Homo sapiens: one gene and its partner. The protein of the gene in region 2 purifies or fractionates together with the protein of the main gene of each other region. This does not show direct contact. Each region holds a gene or a part of one and is shown on either strand. Other genes may lie near its edges.

What was found.
Region 1: the proteins of TOGARAM1 (region 2) and CSPP1 purify together in Homo sapiens (co-immunoprecipitation; one large-scale study listed by IntAct). This does not show direct contact.

What each region holds. Positions count from the first base shown.
Region 1 is NC_000008.11:67,067,392-67,070,891, forward strand, and holds part of CSPP1 (centrosome and spindle pole-associated protein 1), read left to right. Parts: intron 1-708; exon of another isoform or gene 709-1,413; coding exon of another isoform or gene 1,414-1,466; intron 1,467-3,500. UniProt on the Homo sapiens protein: May play a role in cell-cycle-dependent microtubule organization.
Region 2 is NC_000014.9:44,999,054-45,004,492, forward strand, and holds part of TOGARAM1 (TOG array regulator of axonemal microtubules protein 1), read left to right. Parts: intron 1-309; coding exon 310-444; intron 445-5,007; coding exon 5,008-5,313; intron 5,314-5,439. UniProt on the Homo sapiens protein: Involved in ciliogenesis. It is required for appropriate acetylation and polyglutamylation of ciliary microtubules, and regulation of cilium length.

The DNA.
Region 1 (3,500 bases), on a different chromosome or scaffold from region 2:
GTATCAATTATTGATTATTTAAATCTCAGCATACTTTACGTTTGCAGGCTCTGTTTTTTTTGTTTGTTTGTTTGTTTGTTTTGGTTTTTGAGACAAGAGTCTCGCTCTGTCACCTAGGCTGGAGTGCAGTGGCACGATCTCAGCTCACTGCAAGCTCTGCCTCCCAGGTTCACTCCATTCTCCTGCCTCAGCCTTCTGAGTAGCTGGAACTACAGGCGCCTGCCACCAAGCCTGGCTAATTTTTTGTACTTTTAGTAGAGACGGGGTTTCACCGTGTTAGCCAGGATGGTCTTGATCTCCTGACCTCGTGATCCGCCCGCCTCGGCCTCCCAAAGTGTTGGGATTACAGGTGTGAGCCACAACGCGCGGCTGCAGGCTCTGTTTTTAAGAGGTAAATCTTCATATATGCAAAGACTGTAAAGATACAACCATAAACAATAAAAGAATTGATCTGTTGATTTCTTTTTTTTTTTTTTTTGACAGAGTATTGCTCTGTCATCGAGGCTGTAGTACAGTGGCGTGATCTGGGCTCACTACAGCCTCTGCTTCCTGGGTTCAAGCAATTCTCCTGCCTCAGCCTCCTGAGTAGCTGGGACTACAGAGGTGTGCCACCATGCCTGGCTAATTTTTGTATTTTTAGTGGAGATGGGTTTTGCTGTGTTAGCCAGACTGGTCTCAAACTCCTAACCTCAGGTGATCCACTCTCCTTGGCTTCCCACAGTGCTGGGATTACAGGCATGGGCCACTGCGCCTGGCCTGATCTGTTGATTTCTAAGTGTTAGGTTCTCTGTCATAATTTTTATATGCATTATTTTCTTTTTTCTTCATAATATACTAGAATAAATGATATTTCTGTTTTATAGATTAGGCATAGAGCAGTTAAGGAACATGCTTGAGGTCATTCATGTTGAGATCAATAAGTGATAGAAGTATATTTCAAACTCAGTTCTTTCAATTAAACTATTTTCCTGAAAACTGTTTATCATCTACATACTATGTACACAGCTACTGGAGAAATAATACTTGGCCATGATGTCTTGAAAAAAGTTGTGAGTGACTTTATATTGTAGAGTGTCATATATAAATAATCTCATTTAGGTTTCTTTCAGCTGATTTATTTTTGGCAACTTAATCCTTAAATTATAAACTTTCTTACTCTATATTGTACCTATGCCATATTTATTAACCCAGTCTCTGTGATTCACCAAGTAATTCTTGAATAATTGTGTAGTTGAAATATGTTTTCTGTAAGTTACCACATGCTTTTAGGAGTGAGAAAAAGAAAAGTGGCCGTGATATCTAGAAACTGGTATTGCTAGAAACTAGCCTGGCATTCACAGTAACTTTGTGTTTTTCTGTTGAAGATAAACTATTGTACAGAATGTCAACATCAGATAAGGCCGCTCTGTGTCTATGATGGATCAAGACAAAAACATTCCATCAGTGTCTCCAAACACAGACAAAACGTAAATATTGTCCAAGAACCGAGATACCAAACATTCCCTTTCCCAGCTGATGTGAATGACTACTGCTTGTTTACCAGTTACAGCATTAGCCTCCCCCTATATTTTAGATTTATTGAGTGGTACCATCATAGAATTAACCCCACTTCTAACAGTGTTCAATCCTGAGCAAAGCTCCACTTCCTCAAATTAAGCCTTCCCCCAAATCACCCAACACATATAAGTCTTTTCCAATACCCTCTTACCACGATACCACAGGGTTCCCCATGGTGTGTGTTCTCCGTGCATTCCTTAATGCAATGAGTAGTACATCCAACTTAACTGTGGTAGTTTTCCTGGTGTTCTTTGGCTGGAGATCATTACCAGGAGAAAGCTCATTAGTGTCTTTGACTCTTTAATATTAAAGTCATTATAATCTAATCAGATTAGATACAGGAAAAATTTAGAAATGATTAGAAATGTACTTATATCTCGGATAAATCTTATGTTTTAGTTATGGCATATGCTATATTTACTATGGTTGTTTAAAAGTATGTTTTATTTGTACTTTTTGTACTTTTGATTACTGTAAGTTAAAATCAGTTCTATAATTTATAATGTTAAATAATTACAGTAAAGAGAAAGATAAGCATCTATAAATTCAAGAGGGAGATCTTTCAAAGCCTGGTTAGAACAACATGTAAATGAACATGTTAAATTAATAATTGTTATTAGGTGGTATGGAAACCTTAGTTCCATGTGAAGGTGGCATGTTACTGTTTTTTTTTTCTTTTTAGATAAATGACATTTCTTTTTTTTCTTTTCTTTCTTTTTTTTTTTTTTGAGATGGAGTCTCACTCTGTTGCCCAGACTGGAGTGCAGTGGCATGATCTCGGCTCACTGCAACTTCCACCTGCCTGGTTCAAGCGATTCTCCTGCCTCAGTGTCCCCCGGTAGTTGGGATTACAGGTATATACCACCATGCCTGGCTAATTTTTGTATTTTTAGTAGAGACGGGGTTTCGCCATATTGGCCAGGCTGGTCTCGAACTCCTGACCTCAGGTGATCCACCTGCCTCACACTCCCAAAGTGCTGGGATTACAGGCGTGAGCCACCGCCCCCAACCTAGATAAATGACATTTCTGTTTAAATTCTGTGCAAAATTCTATAGCAAAATATATGCGTTATCTCATCATTTTATTCCTATCAGACATAGAATATTTAGGGAAGATTAGAGGATTTTGAGGATTGATTGTTTTAAACATGAAAACTTGTTTGCTGTTGAGTTCAGAATTTTTACTAGGAAAAATCTTTCGTGACTATTAGCAAATTAAAAATGGCTGAAATAAGTCGGGACGGTGGCTCACACCTGTAATCCCAGCACTTTGGGAGGCCGAGGCAGGCGGATCACGAGGTCAGGAGATTGAGACCATCCTGGCTAACACAGTGAAACCCTGTCTCTACTAATAATACAAAAAAATTAGCTGGGCATGGTGGTGGGCACCTGTAATCTCAGCTACTCGGGAGGCTGAGGCAGGAGAATGGCATGACCCCGGGAGGTGGAGCTTGCAGTGAGCCGAGATCGCGCCACTGCACTCCAGCCTAGGTGACAGAGCGAGACTCCATCTCAAAAAAAAAAAAAAAAAGCTGAAATAAGCTGAGTGTGGTTGCTGGCAGTTATAATCCCAGTGATTCTGGTGGCCAACATGGAGGATCACTTGAGCTTAGCAGTTCAAAGTTACAATGAACTATGATCGTGCCACTGCACACTAGCCTGGGCAGCAGAGCGAGACCTCATCTCTAAAAAACAAAAAACAACAAAAGAAATTGGCCAGAATTTATCAACTTTTGTTGATTTGAAGTATATTTTGCTAAAACTATATATGTAAATATATATATATATATATATTTCTATTTTTAGTGTTTTTTTTTGAGATGGGGTCTTGCTCTGTTGCCCAGGCTGGAGTACAGTGGCATGCTCATAAGCTCACTGTAGCCTTGATCTCCTGGGCTCAAGTGATCCAATCCTCCTGCCTCAGCTTCCCCAATAGCTGGGAC
Region 2 (5,439 bases):
AAGCCAGGTCTGGAGAAACGTTCCATGCTGAGAGAAAGAGTGTAGGAAGAAACTGCTTTTGCAGATATTCTTCAACATACCTGTCTTTTCCCTGTTCTTTACTAGTCTGTCTTCTGTCCTTTAATTCCTGCCACTAATCTGATTTTCTAGTATCAAAAGCTGTATCCCTTTCTTGCCTGCCTACCTCACTGTACTTAAACACTTATATTTATTTCCACCTAAATTACACCAACATTTATGAAATAAAATGTATTCATGAAATAAAGTTAACTTTTGCTTTTATGTTTTCTCCCTTCCTTTCTTCAAAAGGTACTACTGGGACTCATCAAACAAATCTTTCTGGGAAATGTGCACAACTTGGATTTTCACAAATATGTGGTAAAACTGGCAGTGTGGGTTCTGACTTACAATTCCTAGGGACAACTAGCAGTCATCAAGAAAAAGGTATAAGTTCCAAATTTACTTGGAAACAAATGACTTATAAATATTATGTGGGGATTCCAACACTAACTTATATGATATTTTGTGTACTCATACTCATCACAAAAAATAAAAGGATTTTGTTATATTTTTAATAACTTTTTTCATAATTGTTACCCTAAAGTATTAGTTTTCATAATCTTTATATAAATACAACTGATTAAAATTAGAGTTTAGATACTCATGGTGGAGATGAGTATTGCATTTGCTTTGATATATACATAATAGTGGTACATATTTGTGGGGGACATGTGACATTTTGATATACAATGTGTAATGATCAAATTAGGCTATTTAGGATATGCATCACCTGAAACATTTGTCATTTCTTTGTGTTGGGAACATTACAAATCTACTCCTGTGGTTATTTTGAAGTACATAATAAAGTATTGTTAACTATAGTCACCTTATTGTGCTATACTGAGCACTAGATCTTACTCCTTCTTATTTTATTTTATTTATTTATTTATTTATTTTGAGATGGAGTCTTGCTCTGTCGCCCAGGCTGGAGTGTAATGGCAGGATCTCGGCTCACTGCGACCTCCGCCCCTGCCCCCGGGTTTTGAGCAATTCTCCTGTCTCAGCCTCCTGACTAGCTGGGACTACAGGTACACGCCACCACGCCCAGGTAATTTTTGTATTTTTAGTAGAGACAGAGTTTCACCATATTGATCAGGGTGGTCTCAAACTCCTGACCTCAGGTGATCCACCTGCCTCGGCCTCCCAAAGCACTGGGATTATAGGCATGAGCCACTGTGCCCGGCCTCTTATTTTATTTTTGTACGCATTAACTACCTTCTCTTTATTACCTACTTCTCACTGCCCTTGCCAGCCTCTGGATACCATCATTCTGCTCTCTACCTCCATGGAATTAATTTTTTTTCTTTTTTAGCTCCCACATAGCAGTGAGAACATGCAATATTTGTCTTTCTGTGCCTGACTTATTTCACTTAAGATAATGTCCTCCATTTCTATCTAGGTTATTGCAAATGACAGGATTTCATTCTTTATATGGCTCAATAGTTCTCCATTGTGTATATGTACCACATTTTCTTTATCTGTTCTTCTGCCGATGGACACTTAGGTTGATTCCATAACTTGGCTATTGTGAATAGTGCTGCAATAAACATGGAAGTGCAATACCTCTTTGATATACTGATTTCCTTCTTTCGATATATGCCCAGCAGTGGGATTGCTGGATCATATGGTAGTTGTATTTTTAGTTTTTTGAGGCAGGGTCTCACTCTGTGGCCCAGGCTGGAGTGCAATGGCTCACTGCAGCCTCGACCTCCCGGGCTCAAGTGATCCTCCTACCTCAGCCTCCCAAGTAGCTGGGACTACAGATATACACTACTATGTCTGGTTAATTTTTAAATTTTTTGCAGAGATGGGGTTCTACTATGTTGCCCAGACTAGTCTCGATCTCCTGGGTACAAACAATCCTGCCTCAGCCTCCCAGAGTGCTAGGATTACAGGTGCAAGCCACCATGCCCAGCACATTTTTAGTGTTTTGAGGAACTTCCTTGCTGTTTTCTATAGTGGCTGTACTAATTTAGCTTCCCACCAGCAGTGTACAAGCATTCCTTTTTGTTGCCATCCTTGCCACCATTTGTTATTTTTTGTCTTTTTGATAAAAGCTATTTAACTGGAGTGACATGATATCTTATTGTGGTTTTGATTTGCACTAGACCTCTACCTTTCACTGTATGCAAAAATCGAATCAAAATTTATTGAAGACTTAAATGTAAGCTGACGTTATAAAACTGCTAGAAGAAAACATTAGTGAAATACTTCAGGACATTGGTCTGGGCAAAGATTTCTTGAGTAAGACCTCAAAAGCACAGGTGACCAAAGCAAAAATGAACAAATGGGATCACATTTAGCTAAAAAGCTTCTGCATGGCAAAGGAAACAGTCAACAAAGTGAAGATACAGCTTACAGAATGGGAGAAAATATTTGCAAACGATTCCACTGTTGAGGGATCAATAACCAGAATATATAAGGAACTCAAACAATTCAATAGCAAAAAAACAAAAATACAATGTGAAAATGGGCAAAAGATCTGAGTAGGCATTTCTCAAAGAAGACATATACATGTCTAATAGGTATATGAAAAGCTCAACATCACTAATCATCAGAAAGATGAGCATTTTAATACCAAGTCATTGAAAATAACATTATCCATTAAAGAGTGTTGTGTTAGCAGATGACAATTATTTTCCGTAACAGTTTTAAATTTTAAGACAATTTAGAATGTATTATGTCTCTTATTAGGAACCGTAACTTCCTAAAAGCTACCCTTTCAGATAAGACATAAGATACAGAAGAGGAAAGATTGGAGACCGGTTATCAGTCAGGAATTTGGGGGTTGAAGGTGTTCTTAAATGTCCATGCTAATTAACAGCTTTAACAATTATTAGATAGAGGTAGGATCAAATTAAGTATTTCTTTAGGTATTTTAAATTTTATTGTATGTCCTTTACTAAAATTTGAGTGATAGGGATATACTTATTTATTTATGAAAAAATAATGATTTGAAATTAGTAGAGAAGATTTCGTGTATTTAGCACTAACATTTTAACTACCCTTTTTTGCACTCACCCCAAAGACCCACATAACTCCTTAAAGATATCCTTTGTGGTATTATCTGCATCACAAAATAATCCATCTTTCTTAATAATGTGGGTATTTCCTAAATTTTGACTCCTGAGTATCTTTGGGACTCATAATTGGTATAATCAGAGAGAGCTTGCTGTGCCACTTAACCTGTTCCTGTTTAGGCTATCCCTGAATAATTACATTGCCTTTGAGGACTATCCACTCTTAGTGTTTAGTCATATTGCACAGTGGCTCTCTGGTTTTCTATTGGAATAGTTATTAGAGAAGCTGGTATAAAGGGATACCACGTTTTTCTAGAATTTAACTTAATACTTGGTTATACATTAAAACCACTACCATCTCAATTAATATTCCCCTTGTGATCTTTGAAGGACCTATGGTATGGATGCAAAACAATATAGATGTTTGCATCCCAATTTACATATTGTAGTGATCCACACCAGGTGTTGGAAATTTTGGTGTATGTTGCATTGCATTGTTTTTATGTATATGCATAGTATGATAGGATGTTTGATTTCTTCATAAGAAATATTTTTAAATCTCGGCTGTGTGCGGTGGCTCACGCCTGTAATCCTAGTGCTTTGGGAGGCCAAGGTGGGTGGATCATGAGGTCAAGAGATTGAGACCATCCTGGCTAACACGGTGAAACCCCGTCTCTACTAAAAATTACAAAAAAACTAGCCGGACATGGTGGCGGGCACCTATCATCCCAGCTACTCGGGAGGCTGAAGCAGGAGAATGGTGTGAACCCGGGAGGCAGAGCTTGCAGTGAGCTGAGATCGTGCCACTGCACTCCAGCCTGGGCGACAGAGCGAGACTCCATCTCAAAAAAAAATAGAAAGGAAATATTTTTAAATCTCTAGGAATATATGAGACATTGTCATGAAAGCATCAGAACCTGTTAATAGAGCACTGTAATTGAAATGAGGAAACTGAAAGTTTTAATTCTATATGTAAATCTGTGACTAAATCTCCTATATCTCTCTACCTAGATAAGATTTTGGTATAAGTAGAGATTTTAACCATGTCAGATATGAATTAAAAAAATAAAGGATATATAATATATACAGTTGTTTAAGTCCTCAGAAGAATGTTTGCTTTATTAATATACGTACGCTAGGTATTTTGTCACGGAAAACATTTTTTAAAATATTAAAGGAAAACTTAAGGGAACCCCTAAAAGATTACAAATAGACTTTTTATATTCGTTGAAGAATAAAAAGATCAATAAAAGGCAAGGAAGAAGTAATAAAGAAAAAAATAATAAATAGTACAAAATAAGATGGTAGAATTAAAATCAAATGTATGAATAGTTTCCGTAAGTATAAATTGGCAGAACTTACAACTTAAATGACAGAGGTGATCAGATCTTGTTTTTTTAGTTTTTCATTGAAGTGATCTTTTTAAGAGCATTACCTAAAATACATCAAGATAGGTTGAGAGAAAGTAAAGCATGGAAAAGATACACTAGGCAAATGTTCAGAGAAAAGCAAATAGAAACATGTTGATGATAGGGAAAATATGCACACCAAAACTAAAAACATTTTTAGTTCTAGAGAGGATCATTGTAATGAGAAAAAGAATAATTCACTAAAGAAACAAGACTTCTCTGACATGTGTGTATATGTATACATATACATGCATGTATGTATGTAATTGATAAAATTACAAGGAGAAAGTTAATTTATAAATGTTAGTACAATATTTTAATGGGATAAAGAAGTTTTGAATTAGAAGATACAGAATATTTGAATAACACAAATTAAATTAGTCCTTTACCTCATACCATACAAAAATATACATGCCAATTGGGATGAAAACCTGAATGGGAAAAGCAAAAAGCAAAAAAGCTTTTAACTGTTAAACTGTGTATACATAAATAATATATTATCTTTTGTTTTATTACAGTGTATGCTAGCCTCAATTTTGGCAGTAAGACACAGCAAACATTTGGTAGTCAAACAGAGTGTACTTCCTCAAATGGTCAAAATCCAAGTCCAGGAGCTTACATCCTTCCATCCTATCCTGTCTCATCACCTCGAACTAGTCCAAAGCATACATCTCCTCTTATTATATCTCCAAAGAAGTCTCAAGATAATTCTGTTAATTTCTCAAATTCCTGGCCTCTTAAAAGCTTCGAAGGACTATCAAAGCCAAGTCCACAGAAGAAGCTTGTCAGCCAAAAATCGTCTGATCCTACGGGTAGAAATCATGGTAAAAGTCAATACTTTGTTCAAATTTATTTGTGTTTGAATTAGTACTTTGAAGTTAATGCATAGGGCTGTTAGATCTTTAAAAGCTAGTAAACTACATTTTATCTGTCTGAATTTAGTAAATATT